Regions from separate parts of the Homo sapiens genome. Here region 1 is linked to region 2. The links come from fine-mapping of genetic effects on gene expression. A gene starts in region 2. The other region holds a variant in brackets. All regions are shown on one strand. Distances are between the middles of the regions. Region 1 overlaps MYO15B (myosin XVB). Region 2 holds the start of RECQL5 (RecQ like helicase 5).

What was found. PIP is the estimated chance that this variant, and not a neighbour inherited with it, causes the effect.
Region 1: its variant is fine-mapped to the expression of RECQL5 in pancreas (GTEx, PIP 0.92).

What each region holds. Positions count from the first base shown.
Region 1 is chr17:75,611,603-75,619,602 of GRCh38, reverse strand. MYO15B (myosin XVB) reads right to left here. Exons shown (of 64, transcript NM_001395058.1): 24 at 7,945-8,000; 25 at 7,587-7,717; 26 at 6,710-6,805; 27 at 6,394-6,629; 28 at 6,132-6,310; 29 at 5,826-5,898; 30 at 5,243-5,404; 31 at 4,920-5,020; 32 at 4,754-4,830; 33 at 4,561-4,642; 34 at 4,265-4,363; 35 at 4,003-4,100; 36 at 3,719-3,910; 37 at 3,456-3,534; 8 more. Among named protein-coding and RNA genes, the nearest start is that of SMIM5, 18 kb to the left of the region's middle. The variant A/G (reference allele first, on the strand shown) is at 3,861.
Region 2 is chr17:75,663,535-75,672,026 of GRCh38, reverse strand. It overlaps RECQL5 (RecQ like helicase 5), which reads left to right and starts at 4,873. Exons shown (of 20, transcript NM_004259.7): 1 at 4,873-4,983; 2 at 5,456-5,599; 3 at 6,855-6,976. The coding sequence starts at 5,470. It overlaps SAP30BP (SAP30 binding protein), which reads right to left and starts at 4,689. Exons shown (of 11, transcript NM_013260.8): 1 at 4,549-4,689; 2 at 3,402-3,511; 3 at 164-211. The coding sequence starts at 4,654. RefSeq lists enhancers at 4,448-4,697, 4,868-4,967, 4,549-5,748.

The DNA of each region.
Region 1 (8,000 bases), 52 kb after region 2:
GTGGCTGGGCTTTGTCCTTCCCCTGGCGTCTGCTCCCCGGCTCTCCTGCTTGTGGTCTGTGCCCATGCACCCCAGGATCCAGGCTGGGGGCCTGGCATCCCTACTCCCTACCCCAGCGCCACTGACCGAGACAGGAAAGAAGCGGGAGAAGTAATTGGCCCAGTTGTCCCGAGCGGCCACCACGATGCGCTTCTTGACGCTGTCTTCGGTGGTGGTGAGAGAATCCAGGTCCACCTCCAAGCCTCCTGTGGGCAGGAAGGACCCAGGCTGCCCTCTGCTCACACAGAGGGGGCTCTAGAGTTTGCTCCCATGCTGCTCCCTCCTTCAGGGCAGGCGCGGCCCCCAGCACTCAAGCTCCCAACTCCATGGTCCCTGGACCCATACCCAGCAGGTCTTTCATTTTCCGCCGCTCATTCTGGGAAATCCGGATACAGGACTCGGAGAAGGTGTCCCGTAGGATCTGGGGGCAGAGCGAGGTGGTCACCACCAGGTCCTGAGACAGAGCCCACCCCCAGAGCAGCCATCCACATGCATGAAGGAAAACCTGAGGAGGCCGATGGAGGGCGCCCTGGCCCCCATGGCCTGTGTGCTCAGCAGAGGGCCTAGGTGGGGCAGGGAGGGATGGAGGGCTTGGGCCACCTCCATTCACACGTCTCACCTGTCCCCTCCCCTGCAACTGCCAGCCCTCCCTTTTCACTCACTGCCCAGAGACCCCGTGGTAACTGCCCTTGGATCAGCCCAGATACAAGATTGTTCGGGGCAGGGGGCAGGTGCTACTGCAGAATTAGGGGGAACAGAGGCTCACTCCTGGGAGCGTTCAGAGGTGGCAAAGTGACAACCATTTATTAAGTACCTACTGTGTGCTAGAGCCTGTGTTGTGCACTGTACGCACTTTGCTTTTAAACTTTATCTATAAAACTAGATGAATAATGGTCCCTACTTCTTGTTGTTGTTGAGACACAGTCTCGCTCTGTCACCCAGGCGGGAGTGCAGTGGCACAATCTCGGCTCACTACAACCTCTGCCTCCCGGGTTCAAGCAATTCTCCTGCCTCAGCCTCCCAAGTAGCTGGGGTTACAGGTGCGTGCCACCACGCCTGATTTTTGTATTTTTAATAGACATGGAGTTTCACCATGTTGGCCAGACTGGTCTCGAACTCCTGACCTCATGATCCACCTGCCTTGGCCTCCCAAAGTGCTGGGATTACAGGCATGAGCCACCGCACCTGGCCATGGTCCCTACTTCTCAGGAATGTTGTGAAGGTTCAATGAAGGCAGGTCTGGGCACACAGAAGTGCCCCCCAGTGCTGGCTGCCAACATGCCCTACGTGGTGTTAACCTGGCCCAGCCATTAGACAAAGGGCACGAAGGATGCTGTCTCTGCAGATGTCTCAGGCTGGCAGGTGGGCCAGCTCTCACCTGCTCACAGAGGAGCCTCAGGTAGTAGGGATGGCTGAAGTTCTCCCGTGGGTAGAACACCTGGAGGAGGGCACAGAAGGGCAAAGATCGGTGGGTCTGGTGCCTCTTCCCAGCAAGCCTCTGCCCTCCCAGGCCTGGAAAATCAGCCTTGAGATGGTGGGCTGTGGGGAGGGGATGCTGGGGTCCCAGGCTGGGATGCACAAAGCCTGCCGCCTCCCTGCCAGCCCAAAGAGGCCAGGCCAAGGCCCCACCCTCATGCCCACCTCCTTGCGTAGGAACAACTTCCAGGGCGTGCCGGTGTAGGAGAAGCACACGCTGCCAGAGGGCGCGAGTAGCTGGGTGGAGACCCCCTGGTCCTCCACGGGCTGTGTCAAGCCTGGCAGAGAGGAGGGGGTGAGGAGCCTCAGTGAGGGGCTGCAGAGCCAGAGTGATGGGGGCACGGGAGGGAAGACCTTCATCCCCACGAGCCTTCCAAGGGCCCGGCTCTCCCAACCTCCAGCTGCCTTACTCCTTCCATGGCACCATCTCCTGCCTCCATTTTGGGCCCTAAACTTTCCCTGGCGTCCGTGAGGCTCGTGGGTCTTCTATGACCATGTCAGCCAGGGCCACTAACTTCCTCACAGAGCTGTCGGGTATGTGTCAGGGACAACACCCTGTGTGTGACAGCCTCTCGATGACAGCCCCAAAGATGCCCAGGCCCTGCCCTGGGTGGGAACGCGGAAGCTGGGACTCCCCAGCTACGTATGGCTCCAAAGTCCAGAAGCCCGAACAGCTGGCCTCAGCCACGCAGAAATGCCTTCAGCCCTGGGCACCGAGAGTCTGTGCGAACCCTGCCTCTGCCCCAGTGAAGCCCACGGCGCAGGAGAAATGTGGTTCCTTACAACGACGCTCTGCTGAAAGGGTCCCTGGGTCCTCGGGCAGAGGCAGTGGTGGCGCTGGTGGAGGTGGGGGTGTGTGGGCAATAGGCAGCTTCTGGCCAAACAGGTCCAGAAGGGGCCCCTGCTTTTCCTTGATGGAGCTAGAGGGCCCAAGCTGTAGCGGGGCCTTGGGTCGAGGAGCCACAGCTGGCGGGGGGCCCTTTCCTGGGCTGGGGGACAGCATCTGGGGGGATACGGAGAAAGTACACGGGCTGAGTCACAGCACAAGGCCAAGTTCGCCCCAGAGAGCCTTGAGCTCCCCAGTGCAGCAGCACACACTCTGGGGGAGACAGGCTGGGGTGCTCACCGGCGGGGACGAGTGGGCACCGTTGATACCCAGCTTGGCCAGAGCCTCGTCCTTGGGGTCGATTTTCCTCAGGAAAGCTTTGGGAGGCCTCGTGGGAGAAGCAAGAGGTCACTAAGTTCATAGGGTGATTCCCCGAGGAGCGGGACAGCCCTGGCCACCTCCCCGTGGGGGCCCACCTGGATGGCTGCACGGGCACAGGCACGGGGCCCGGGCGGCTCTGGTACATGCGGATGATGTTGCCAATTTCCCTGCTGGGTTGTGGCCGCTTGGGCTTGGAGTCTGAGCTGCGCACCACAGTCCCCCTGCCTTGGGCTGGCCCTTGGCCATGGCCCTTGGCCGCTGTCTCCTTGGCTGGCTCAGCCTCAGCCTCTTTTGGAGCTTTGGCCCCACCTTGCTTCAATGGCTTCTTCACGATGGGGGGAGGAGGAGGGGACGGCACTGACCAGGAAACAGGAAAGACTGTTAACCGCGTGCAGAGCCACCGGAGCCCCAGGCCCTGCCCAGCTCCCCACAACCTGCTCTTGTTTCCACTTCTTGCTCCTCCTGCTCCTCCTCCTCCTCCTCCTCCTCCTCCTCCTCCTGCGCTTCCCCCTGGGGGATGTGGACCTTGGCCGGGGGCTTCATCGTCCTCACTGTGATCTGTGGCTGCCCTGCAAGTGTCCAGATGGCCTTCAAAGTTACCCATACTGGCCCAGCTGGGCTCCTGGATGGGCCGCACCAACTCCGGGGAGCAGAGCACACCCCACCCTCCCTGGCCCGGGCCAGGGGCACTGGCCATGTTTCTGCACGGTCCTGCCACCCCAAGTGCCCTCACCCATCCTCTGGAAATAGTTCCGTTTCTGCTGGAAGCTCTTGGGCTGATAGGGCCTGTCTTCAGCCTCCTCGGAGGTCTCCTGGCAGAAGCAGAAATGAGTGGCAGCTCAGCCAGCCTGGGTGCCACACTCGCCACACCCCTCGGGTCCCCAGTCCTGGGCCAGCAGCCTCTTCCCTGTGTCTGCCTACTCACCCTGCCCATGTCCCCTGCCCCTGCAGTCCCCACCCTCACATCCCTTCCTGAGAATATGGTCACCTCCTCACCCTCAGGCAGCCACCCTCTGATCCCAGGTCACGCTGTGGCTTCTCCGGGGGTGTGGGGGGCTTCCTGGGCTTGGAGGTGACGGCTGAGGGTGAGGCCTGGGACGCAGCCTCGGAGGCCCGAGCCTGCTGCTGCCGCTGCTGC[A/G]TCTGCTGCTCCAGGGACAGGGACATGGCCTGGGCTGTCATCTGCTGGGCCTGAAGCAGGAGGAGCAGCCAGTTCAGACCCTCATCCCCGAGCCACAGACCTCTCCTCCACCAGGTGGCCCCAGGGCCCTGCCAGCGCTCACCAGGATTAGCGCCTGCTGCTGGATAAAGTTCTGCTGCTGGACGGCCAGCTGCCCTGCATCCAGGCTGGGAAGCGGTGGCTGCGGCGGCACCACCATGGCTGTGAGGGCGGCAGGCGGCCAGAGTGGTGGGCACCATGGCCAGCCTTGAAGCTCGCTGCCCACTGTGCACTCGGGACTCCTAGCAGGACCCTCCCTCCTCCAGTCCCAGAGCTGGTGGCTGCTCTCCTGAGAAGGGACTCTGGTGCCCCCAGCCCAGACTTACCTGGCATGGCAGGGACTGTGCCCATTGCTGGCATCATGGGCATGGGTGCAGGGACCATGCCTGGCTGGTATGCAGGCATCTGAATCATTCCTGGGTACACTGAGGGAACACGCCCTCCCTGTCAGTCCCTGCCTGGGCCCACATGCCACCTCCCTCCAGCCCCAGGCACAGAGAAGAGCATCGGGCACCGGGGTGCTGGCCAGGGCATCGATCGCCACTGCCAGAGGGGTCCCAGGCCATGCCTGCCATGCTGCCGGGCCCGGAGGCCCTGGGTGAGGAATCAGCCCCTCACTCACCCATGGGGTAGCCCTGCTGTGTGGGCCCAATGGCGCCCCCTCCCTTCATGCGGCTGCTCAGAGCCCAGCTTTGTTCCAGATCCTAAAGGGACAATGGTCACAGGTCAGAGTGAGAGCCCTGAGAAAAATGGAAGGGGCAGCAGAGGCCCCGGGGGGTTGGGGCAGGGGCATTTGGGGGCTGTGCCCGACTCACGCTGAGGCCGGAGGATATCACTGGCTGGAAGATCTGGTCCAGGAAGCCGTCCAGGCTCCCTGACCTCTGGACCTCCCCTGTGGGGCAGGGAGAGGGTTGGAGCCATGGCCCGGGGCGTGGGGCTTCCCATGCTCTGCCAACCTCCATGTGCCCACTCCAGCCTTACCTGTGTGGTCCCTGCTGGGCAGCGTTGGGGCTGGACCTGGAGGGGGTCCTGGGGGCAGTGAGGGGGCCTGAATGCCAGGGGCAAGGGGAATGGCCTCGGCTCTGCAGGAAACGGGATCCAGCTAAGGGGGTGGCCAAGGCTGAGGGTCACCCAGGCTGGGGCAAGAGGTAGAAGCTGCTGCGGGGGTCACCCCATGGTTGGGAGGAGGCTGGGTGGGAGGGCTGGGCCTGTGGCAGCTCCTATAAACCCCTGAGTGTGGCAGGGTGGCTGTGGGGTTCCCCGGCAGGAGCAGGCCAGGGAGAGGGGTGCTGGGTGGCACCTACGAGCCAAGAGGAGTGATGGGGTAGCTGCGGGGGCGAGCTGGGTCCCCCAGGTCCTCAGTCTGGCTGATCAGGTCCAGCACAAAGTCGCAGCCAGCCAAGTCCTGCCATGCGTCCCTGGAGTGCAGTGACACAGACCAGCCCCGGGGAGGCGCCTCCAGGCCTCTGGGTGGGAGGGGACCAGTCAGTGAGGCAGGCGGCCATCCAGAAGGGGGCAAGGACCACAGGGTGGGCCAAGGGGGCAGGGGGCTGAGGAAGGGAGGGTGGCCCTGGATCCGCCTGGTCCGGGACCCAGGTTTGCTCAGCAGTGGGGGCTGCTCCCCTCCTCACCTCACGGCCCTCCACTTCCACAAGGGCTCCAGCATGGGCATTTCTTTTCTGACCTGCTGAGTTAGAATCTGCCGTGGGAGCTCCCAAGCCCCTCATTCCTAATCTGCCCCCGGCTCCCCATCGCCATCTGCAGTCTGGCCCCTGCCCACCCCGGGGCACCTCTCCTCCCGGCCCCTGAGACTGGGCTTGGAGAAGGAGGAGGGTATAGGACAAGGGTCACTTTGGCCACACTGTCCCCCATCCCCGGTCCCCATACCTGCTCTGCAGGATCCACCCAGCCAGCTGCTCCCCGGTGGTCCAAGACTCCACCTCGGCCGAGTAGCACTCCTCTGCAGGGGCATGGGGGGCGGGGGCAAGAGTGAGGGACAGCAGAGTCCACCCTGACAGGAAGGGGCTGCTGTCCCCATGAGAGTTTCAAAAGCAGGACAGAGGGGAGGGGGATCAGGGTCACTGAGGACAGGGCAGCAGGAAGACTGGGGCAGGAAGGGGTTCCAGGGAGGGCAAAGGGGTAGGGCTGGCCCCACTTCAGGCCTGGGAGGCCTCAGCCAGAGGCAGCCCTCACCGCTGAAGGTGAACACATCCAGCGCCATGCGGCCCCGCCGCCATCCGGCCAGCCACTCCAGCTGGGTCGGGGGGTGGGCCCGAGTGGCCCCCGAGGCCAGCTGCGACTGCTCCAAGGCCCCCAGCAGCTTGTGCTGGCACAGCGCTGCCATGCCCCTGGGGGCCTGGTCAGACACGAACCTGCAGGGCGGGCACAGGCTGCAGTGGAGGCAGGGTGATCCAGCGACCCCACCTGCCAGGTCCCCACCTCCCAGGCCCCTTACTTGAGCAGTGGCTTCTGTAGGACAGGCAGTGGGGGAAAGGCGCTGAGCAAAACAGCCATGAGGGCCCAGCCACGCTGGCTCTGCTGTTCATCTGGGTTCTGCCATAGCTGGGCCACCAGCTGGCTAAAGAGCTCATTCCGCAGCCCTGGCCGGCACTGCCCCTGCCGCACCAGGTATGCGCCCATGATCTGCCTCTGCCAGGACTCCAGGGATCCGTCCCCCAGGAGCCGCAGCATCTGCCGACACAGCCGGGTAAGGACAGGACGTGCGGGGCTCCCAGGCGCCTATCCTGTCCCTTCTCCAATGTGTCACTCACCACTTTGTTGATGTCCAGGGCACGCTGAGGGTTGTCTCCATCCAGCTGGGTTAGGGGCTTCGCCAGTGGCTGCCCTGGCCTGGGCAGGGACGGTTCCTGCAAGGAAGGAGAGGGCTCAGTCCATGCTCACCAGCTATCAGACAGCCCAGGGGAGCCCCACCGGAGCAGGCACCTCGGGAGAGGCAGAGGGGCTGGACAGAAATGCATCTTAATGCCTTTTTTTTTTTTTTGAGGCAGAGTCTTGTCTGTCGCCCAGGCTGGAGTGCAGTGGCACAATCTCAGCTCACTGCAGCCTCCACCTCCCAGGTTCAAGTGATTCTCCTGTCTCAGCCTCCTGAGTAGCTGGGACTACAGGCGCATGTCTGGCTAATTTTTGTATTTTTAGTAGAGACGGGGTTTCACCATGTTGGCCAGGCCGGTCTCAAACTCCTGACCTCAGGTGATCCACCCACCTCGGCCTCCCAAAAGTGCTGGGATTACAAGCATGAGCCACCATGTCCAACCTGTATGTGCAGTTTTGAACCTGCATTTGTATTTACTGCTGAAGTCTGGACAATTTCCCTTGTCAATAAACATTCTTTAAGGTCATGACTTCAAAAGCAGGGCACTACCGCAGGTACAACAAAGGTGTGGCATCGTGGATCTAAATAACGTCTCCCATTCAATAACACCAACTGTTATCTCCAGTAACGCTCTATGGTGAGACAATTACATTCAACGGTTATTTTCAGAGCAATTCAGCGCTACTCACAGCCCCAAAGGCTGGGGAGGAAGGAGGGCAAGAGCTGACAGCGGGGAAAAAAACGCAGCATCTGTCAGGCAGGTGCTAACTCAGAGCGGTGAGGCCAGCGGGAAGAGCTTAGGCCTGGGCGCCCACCTGAAAGCCGATGGCGACGAAGCTGGAGAAAGGGAACAGGTCAATGTCTGCTGGGAGAGTCAGGCTGGGCCGGGCAGGAACCTCAGGCGGCAGGCACTCGGTGATGCTCCCAGCCAGGGCGTCCCGATGGCCTGGGAACAAGCACCGGGAGGCAGCCCAGGAGCATCCAGGTGTGGTACCTGGCCCTGGGACCACCTCCATCCCTCACCACGAGCCATCAGCCCCTGTCCACAGGGACCCAAGTGATGAGCTCAGGGGAGTCTGGAGCATCAGAGGGAGGAACCACAAGGGACAGACACACCCCACAGTAAAGGGACTGGAGAAGGAGTCCTAACAAGAGGACACCAACAAGACTCACTTTCCGCCGTCTTCAGCATGACGGCCAGCTCAGCCGGGATCTCCAAGCGCCCCAGC
Region 2 (8,492 bases):
GTCTCCAGGTTCTTTCTTTATAAAGCTTATTTTATCCCAGAAAATGTCCACACAGTTGCACAGTTTGTCAGTGGGACAGATCTTGACCAAACATACGAACTGAGCCACAGTGTTCAAACACCTTGTTTGCATCCAGCCACCCACCACAGCCAACACCAAATACCTTTGGGTCATCAGCCTCAGGTTTTTCAGTCTCTGAATCGTCATCTTCCTACAAGACAAAGAATTTAGAGGATTAAGCTTAAAGGAGCGGGCCTGAGGAGTCTCACATGCATAACTAGGGGCCGGAGCAAACAGCCCATTTACCCAGCTGGGGTCATCCCACCAAGAATCCCTCCCCTACCATATAACTCAGAACCAGAGAAAAATAAGGGGAAAAAGAGATATTCTGGAGGGGAAAAAAACAAAAAACAAAAAAGCATCAGCAGCTCAAAGTCAAGTTACTTTAGTGGTGAGACAGTCCACATCAATGAAGATGCCCGAGTTCAAAGTCACATACATAAAAATGGAGAAAGCTTGCAATATGTTTTAGGAAAGAGTAAGATCAGGCCACACAATAAAACAGGCATCGTGTTTCCACTGAAGTATCAGTTATTTCAAATCAGGATTATGAGCCTTCTTTCCTTTTCATATACACATGTACATCAGACTCGGACCTACTCTAACAGTGTCCAACACCAAGTGCCAAGGCTTACACACAGCTGTATCGCAGCACCTCAACCGGCATTTGCACAAACATCAACACAGGAAGGCAGGCATCAAACTACCTGAGCAAGTGACCTGGGAAAGGCAGGACTAAAGGGCAATGCCCAACCTTTCAGGAGTCCCAGTTGAGTGGGCTCTGCCTCCACCTAAGTGCTCACAGAACTGCCAGTGATCCATTCTACCCAGTCCTGTTCCTTATCCAGATGAGGTCAGCCTGACACAAAGGATCACACACGGTAAGGCATTCTCCAAAGCGAGCCCGCCATTCCACTGAACGCTAACGCTGATGCTATGAAGGTCAAAGATCAGGAGCAGATGCTGGACCAGCTACCTTATTAGCTGGCTAAATCCATGTCACCTCCACTACCCAGAACACTCCCAATGCACAGAAGCCTTTAACTAAATACCCAGGAAAAAATGGTTTCATTTGAAACTACTATTTTCAACAAAGCTACATTTCAGCCCAAACATTACACAGCACTCCATATATTAATATAAATACCACTCGAGAGACTTGAACAAACTAGACTCATGATTTGGAGACTTAACTGTCCTGTAAGGTACCAGTGAGTCCAAGGCTTTAAATGCAATCTCCATAATCTCCTTAAAATGAAATCAGTCATGCCAAATAAACAGAGATGGAGCTCAGACAAATACAATCACATTTCAGAATCTCTACAACAAGATCTGATGAGAGGATTTTACTAAAATATGAAATGAAGCTTAAACATGATGAAAATTCTAAGCAAAGCAAATATGAAATAACACTTCAAAAACACATTATGCAAACGTACTAAAGAAAAGAGTTATGAATATTAAGCCAGAATGTGTGTACTTCAGAAAAGTCAGAAAACAACTTGCAAAACTTTTCTGAATAATTTCAGTCAACTCTGAATTATCAATATTAATGGATGGGGCTAAAGGCATGAAAGTATCTCCCAAAATGCATCATGTACAAAACGCATTTCTGTTTGTTGTGGAAATAATTTTTTTTTTTTTTAAGATGGAGTCTGGCTCTGTTGCCCAGGCTGGAGTGCAGTGGCGTGATCTCGGCTCACTGCAACCTCCGCCTCCCGGGTTCAAGCGATTCTCCTGCCTCAGCCTCCCGAGTAGGTGGGACTACAGGTGCGTACCACCATGCCCTGCTAATTATTGTATTTTTAGTAGAGATGGGGTTTCACCATGTTGGCCAAGATGGTCTTGATCTCCTGACCTTGTGATCCGCCCACCTCAGCCTCCCAAAGTGCTGGGATTACAGGCATGAGCCACCGTGCTTGGCTGGAAAGAATTTTAATGCTAACATTTACATACCAACATGTAACAAAAATTTCAAACAAATAATATATTTTAAGTGATTTAATTAAAACTTGCTAAGCAGTCAGATTTGACATCTAGACTCAACTCTGCCTGTCTTATGCTAAGCACCAACTTCAATTTCCTTGCGTTTTCTGCAAACTTAAATTCTGGCTCATGTTGCTCAGGTGATTATGTGTCTAAAGACTTTCTTGTTAATAATAGCACAGGTTCTCCTTTCTCCAGCACCTACTGAACTTCAGGCAAGATTTGTGATCAAGAACTAAGGGCACCATTATAAAAAGTGCCAAATAAAATGTCAAGAAAGAAGTTAAGAAGGCCAGGGATGGTGGCTCATACCTGTAATCCCAGCACTTTGGGAGGGTGAGGCAGGGGAATTGCTTGAGGCCAGAAGTTTGAAACCAGACTGGGAAACATAGTGAAACAACGTCTCTACAAAAAATTTTTTTTTAAATTTTAAAAATCGGCCAGGAGCAGTGGCTCACGCCTGTAATCCCAGCACTTTGGAAGGATGAGGCGGGTGGATCACCTGAGGTCAGGAGTTAGAGACCAGAATGGCCAACATGGTGAAACCGTCTCTGTGAAAAATACAAAAATTAGCCAGGCGTGATGGCAGGTGTCTGTAATCCCAGCTACTCAGGAGGCTGAGGGCAGGAGAATTGCTTGAACCTGGGAGGTGGAGGTTGCAGTGAGCAGAGATCGCACCACTGCACTCCAGCATGGGCGACAGAGCAAGATTCCGACAAAAAAAAATAATAATAGGTTAGCTAGGCATGGTGGCGCCCACCTGTAGTCCCAGCTACTGGGTAGGCTGAGGTGGGAGGATCACTTGCGCCCAGGAGTTCAAGACTGTAGTGAACTATCTATGATCACACCACTGCACTCCAATCTGGACAGCAGAGTGAGACCCTATCTCAAAAAAAAAAAAGAAAAGAAAAAGCAGGTGAAAACGAATTTTCCTTTCTTATCTTGTTAATAAACTGAGAAGACTTAAATGAGCCCCAACCAAGATTAAAAATAATGCAGAGTTGACTGTAGATATAAATGATACACCAGTTAGGATGAATGCCTGCTATAAATGGAGTAAATCATTTAAACAGGGAAAAATCAACATAAAACACCCATTGATATCTGGGTTAAATAAAATAATCCACTATCTTTTCCCCCAAATTTCAATTCAAAGATTAATAAAAAATGATCCATGTGAAAATACATTTTCAAACAGATCTGATATCCAATCCAGTTTCTTCCACTAATACTAAAACAAAACGGGAGAGCAAGGGATGGAGCTAACCATGAAATGGAACACTGTTGGCACAGTTCCAAAATCTGACAAATGAAATTGTGCTTTCAGTAGCTCTGGATCTGGGAGATTTACCTACCGACTGTCTACTGTTCTCATCTTCTTCTTCTTCATAACCATCTTCATCACCCCCTAGACGAGAAAAGTCATCCTCCCCATAGGCATCAGATACCAATCCGCCTTTCTCCTCTGAAAGGTTAAAAAACAAACAAACAAACAAAAAGCAAGAAAAAAAAAACAAGAGTTACAATGTAAGAAAAAATGTCCAGAGATTTGAGTGGCCAAGACTATCTCTGAAGATACAAAGGGAACCTAAATCTCATGTTAAGTTACAATAGGCCCAGATTCGGCTCTCTGAGAAGGCCAGCATTTACTGAATAAAATCATTAAAAGGTCAGGGAACAAAACCGAGTACTAAATTCTGTTTCTAATGCTATAAACACTAGATAAACACTAAAGTGTTTATAGGAAACCATCAGAGAACTTTCTGACTGGAAGAGACCACACAAAATCACAAAACATGGAAGTACCTAACCTAATCCAATCCCCTTCACTTTCCAGATGAGGAAGCTAAGGTCCTGATATGTTGTTAGGTAACTTGTTCTTTATTCTCCCAAAGGAATCTGTTTCCATTATCTAACATTGTGCTTCTCAACCTGAGGAGGAGAACATCACCGTTAGGCTTTAAAAACTCACAAAATAAGAAAAATCACCTGGGATCCTTAAAAAGTTCACAAATGCCCACATCCTACCCCAGTTCTACCGAATTAGGTTCTCTCACTTTGGGCATCAGATACGTTTGTTTTTAAAAGCTCCAAGATGTGTTTAGGGCACATTCCTAACTAAAAGTTATAAAGTTAACGAACACAATCTTTACCATCTTCCACGTATGTTTTACTTATCGCTCTCCCTCATCAAACAACGAGCCCAGGGGAAACAGGCAGTGGCTGAGCAGCCGCTCCCTCTTCGTCCATCCCTCTGTCTATCACTATAGCCGGCACGGAGTCTTTCAGTAAGTTTAGGCAAATTAATCGAAATAACGGGAAGGAGATTCTTCATTCTTAGTCCACAGTCTCTAATGCTCTATCTCACCCCGGACCCTGGACCATTCTTCGGGGTCCGGTGCTTGGAGCACAATGACCATCTTGTTCCCTCCCGCCCAGCGAGGGTACAGCATTCCGGGCAGACACCCGATTCCCCCTTCCAGCTTCGCACTTGGGCCTTACCAGCCGCGCTGCCCACCGCCTCGATTCCAGCCTCGCCATCAGACTCGGGCTCTGAATCTTCCGCGTAAACTGCGAGAGACGACAGAACATTCTTCTTCCCCGCCATCTTATTCCCACAGCCCGGGCGTGGCTCACTCCTATGACTCAAGACGCCGACTTCCGGGCGGAAAGGCAGGTTCTTTCGGATCCCAGGAGACCCCCGCGCCACACTGGAAACCAATCAAAACGGCAGTTTCCTGCGCCTGGCTCCGCCCTCATGCCAGCGCTCGCGCTACGTCATCACTGCGCGACGGATATAAGATTGCGTGGGTTCTGCCTAAAGCTGAATTCCCAGCGCTTTGGCTTCTCTGAGTTGGGGTTGTGTATAGGGGTCTTCGAACAGTTCCGGAACCAGCCAGCAGCCTTTAATTCTTGGGCGGACCACGGCCGGTTCTGATATCTTAGGGTGAAGAGAGGGAGGTGTCGGCCAGCCAAGAGAGAAAATTGCGGATCTTGGGCTCAGGAAGACGGGAGAAGGGGTTCGGGGTCCCGGGGTGGAAGAACGGTCGTCGTGGTTGCGCTTATAGAAGTAGGAGCAGGTGGTGGATCTTAGGAAAACGGTTCCCCGTTCTCCAAGCTGTTCTGAAGACATTTATGTTTCTTCTCTTGATCTGATTTCTAGCTCTGTGCTATACCGTGGCCTGGAATAGTTCAATGTTTTCATTTTCATTGAGCGTAAAAGTGGAGATGTTAATTACTGAGGAATGTATTGCTTGAGGCAGTTCACCTTCAGCTTTATTACTTAAAAATAATACATTATTTAAGTGTAATATAGCAAATTGTTACAGAAAAATAATCTGTATTTTTAATGCAAAACAGAGGGTTCTCGTGGCAACCTTTTACTACCTTTGCCTTAACCTTTGGCCACTGTTCTTGGCTAAGATGAGCAGCCACCATACCACCTTTCCTTTTGACCCTGAGCGGCGAGTCCGGAGTACGCTGAAGAAGGTCTTTGGGTTTGACTCTTTTAAGACGCCTTTACAGGAGAGTGCGACCATGGCTGTAGTAAAAGGTAACATTACCAAGCTACCTTCCTTTAAATTTATGCTGGCTATACCATAACGCTGCGGCAGAACACCCTCCTCCTCACCCTTCGTACTGCCTCACCTTTGGTCCATAACTGGATTTGGAAATCTTTAGAGTTGTCAAAGCTTGTAGTTTCGTTTATTTGTTTTAATTAGAGATGGGGTCTTGGCATGTTGCTCAGGCTGGTCTCCAAATCCTGGGCTCAGGCAATCCTCCCACCTCGGCCTCCCAAGGTGCTGGGATTACAAGCATGAGCCACCACGCCCGGCCCAAAGCTTGTAGTTTTAGTGGCAGAACCACCCAGCTGGTCTATATTTCATAGCTAGATTTACACATGGTCTTTGAAAACACTTCAGATTCTCATTATTGTTCGTTTGTACACACAAACGAACAGCAACAGTGAGGGTGGTAGGAATAACTTAACTCGGTCACTGGCCTCCTAGGTAATTCCCTTGTTGCAGGTTGAGTGGCCTTGGTCCCAGATAGAGAAGGAAAGAGTAATAATGTTATAAACCTGAGATACGGTGACAAATGGAAGTTGCCAAGAGGCGAGCAGCAATGTAATATTAATGATACATGTCTAAACAAAAGCCCTCTAAGTAATGTCCTCTCATGTCTACACAGATGTACCCACTCATCTAGCAGTACTCTGCTTTCATGGCTGTTTAGTTCAATCATCCATATCACAGCAGACTCAGACTTCTTTTTTTTTTTTTTTTTTTTTGAAACAGAGTCTTGCTCTGTCGCCCACACTGGAGTGCAGTGGCGCGATCTCGGCTCACTGCAACCTCCGCCTCCTGGGTTCAAGCAATTCTCCTGCTTCAGCCTCCTGAGTAGCTGGGATTACAGGCACGTGCCACCATGCCTGGGTAATTTTTGTATTCTTAGTAGAGACAGAGTTTCACCATGTTGGCCAGGCTGGTCTCAAACTCTTGCCCTCGTGATCTGCCTGCCTTAGCCTCCCAAAGTGCTGGGATTACAGGCGTGAGCCACTGCGCTTGACCCAGACTTTTTAAATCTTGTTTTTAACCATTACTAGAAATGGTTTGGGCATGTATCCAAGTTTCCCAGGATCCTTGCCTTTTTCATAGAAAGGACAGGAGGGGAATTAGGATTACATCGAGACCCTCCCATGTGCCAGACACTCTGCTAGGTGCTTTTCCTACATTCTCATTTAATTTTCAACAACTTCAATGAAAAGGCAGGAAGCACTGAGATATTGTTGTCTTGTATTTTTTCAGGTAACAAGGACGTCTTTGTGTGCATGCCCACAGGGGCAGGAAAATCCCTATGCTATCAGCTCCCTGCTCTGTTGGCCAAAGGCATCACCATTGTAGTCTCTCCTCTCATTGCTTTGATTCAGGTGAGGCTTAGGGCAATGAAGATGGTAGCCCAAAAAGATTCGGGGAAGGTTTTTTGAGGCTGGAAATTTCACTTCTCTATTGGTCTTTTGCCTCTTATTTTCTTTTCTTTTTCTTTTTCCTTTTTTTTTTTTTTTTTTGAGACAGAGTCTTACTCTGTCGCCTAGGCTGAAGTGCGGTGGTGCGATCTTGGCTCACTGCAGCCTCCACCTCCCGGCTTCCAGCAATTCTTGTGCCTCAGCCCCCCATATAGCTGGGATTACAGGTGTATGCCACCATACCCGGCTAATTTTTGTATTTTTAGTAGAGATGAGGTTTCACCATGTTGGCCAGGCTGGTCTCAAACTCCTGACCTCAAATGATCCGCCCACCTCGGCCTCCCAAAGTGCTGGGATTACAGGTGTGAGCCACCACACCCGCCCCTGCCTCTTATTTTCTATGATTTGCCTATCTCATTCGCTATATTGGGTTTCTGTATTTCCCCAATGTAGTGTTCTCCACTGGTGCATATCACTCTGGGAGGTTATGAATGACTCCTCTGAGGTCCCTCACCCTCCTTTGTTATTTTTTTGTTCAGAGGAGTATGAAACTGTATTTGTACACACATATACACTCAGTCTCATGTATACACACACGTGCACTCGTGATGTTGAGACAGAAGTTGCAGATGGATAGATAGCTAAGTTGATATGGGGAATCCCTGGTGTCCTGCTTATTTTGGTAAGGGCACAGTATGTGAAACAGAAAAAAAGATGAGAAACTGTCTGGGACCTTATTAACATCTGCTCTACAGGTGTTCTGACTATTTAAGGCCTGCAGATGGGCTGATAGAATCAGAATTGAGGAAGTGTGGCTGTGTGGGTAAGAGCCATCCACCATGAAGGAAGGTAGAGAGGGAACTACAGTAATAACTTGGTGAATGTTCACCAGGTCCCAGGCTTCGTGCTAAGTGCTTTACATACATTAATTTCTTTCTTTCTTTTTTTTTTTTTTTTTTTGAGATGGAGTTTCGCTCTTGTTGCCCGGGCTTGAGTGCAATGGCGTGTTCTCGGCTCACCGCAACCTCCGCCTCCCGGGTTCAAGCAGTTCTCCTGCCTCAGTCCCCCGAGTAGCTGGGATTACAGGCATGCGCCACCATGCCTGGCTAATTTTGTATTTTTAGTAGAGACAGGGTTTCACCATATTGGTCAGTCTGATCTCGAACTCCTGACCTCAGGTGATCTGCCCGCCTCAGCCTCTCAAAGCGCTGGAATTACAGGTGTGAGCCACCGCGCCCGGCTTACATACGTTAATTTCACCTCTCAGATGTAAATTTTAAGTTATACAACAATGCTATTAGATAGAATTGTATAAATCGTTCAGAGGGTAAGAAACAGCCAGCGAGCATGTGGCGATTAAGTGAGCCAGGATGAAATCTAAATCTGAAGTCTGTCTGACTTCAGAGCCTGTGCTCTAAACCACTTCACCTTCCATAGAGATTGAGCATCCCTAAAGCAAAAATCTGAAATCTGAAATGCT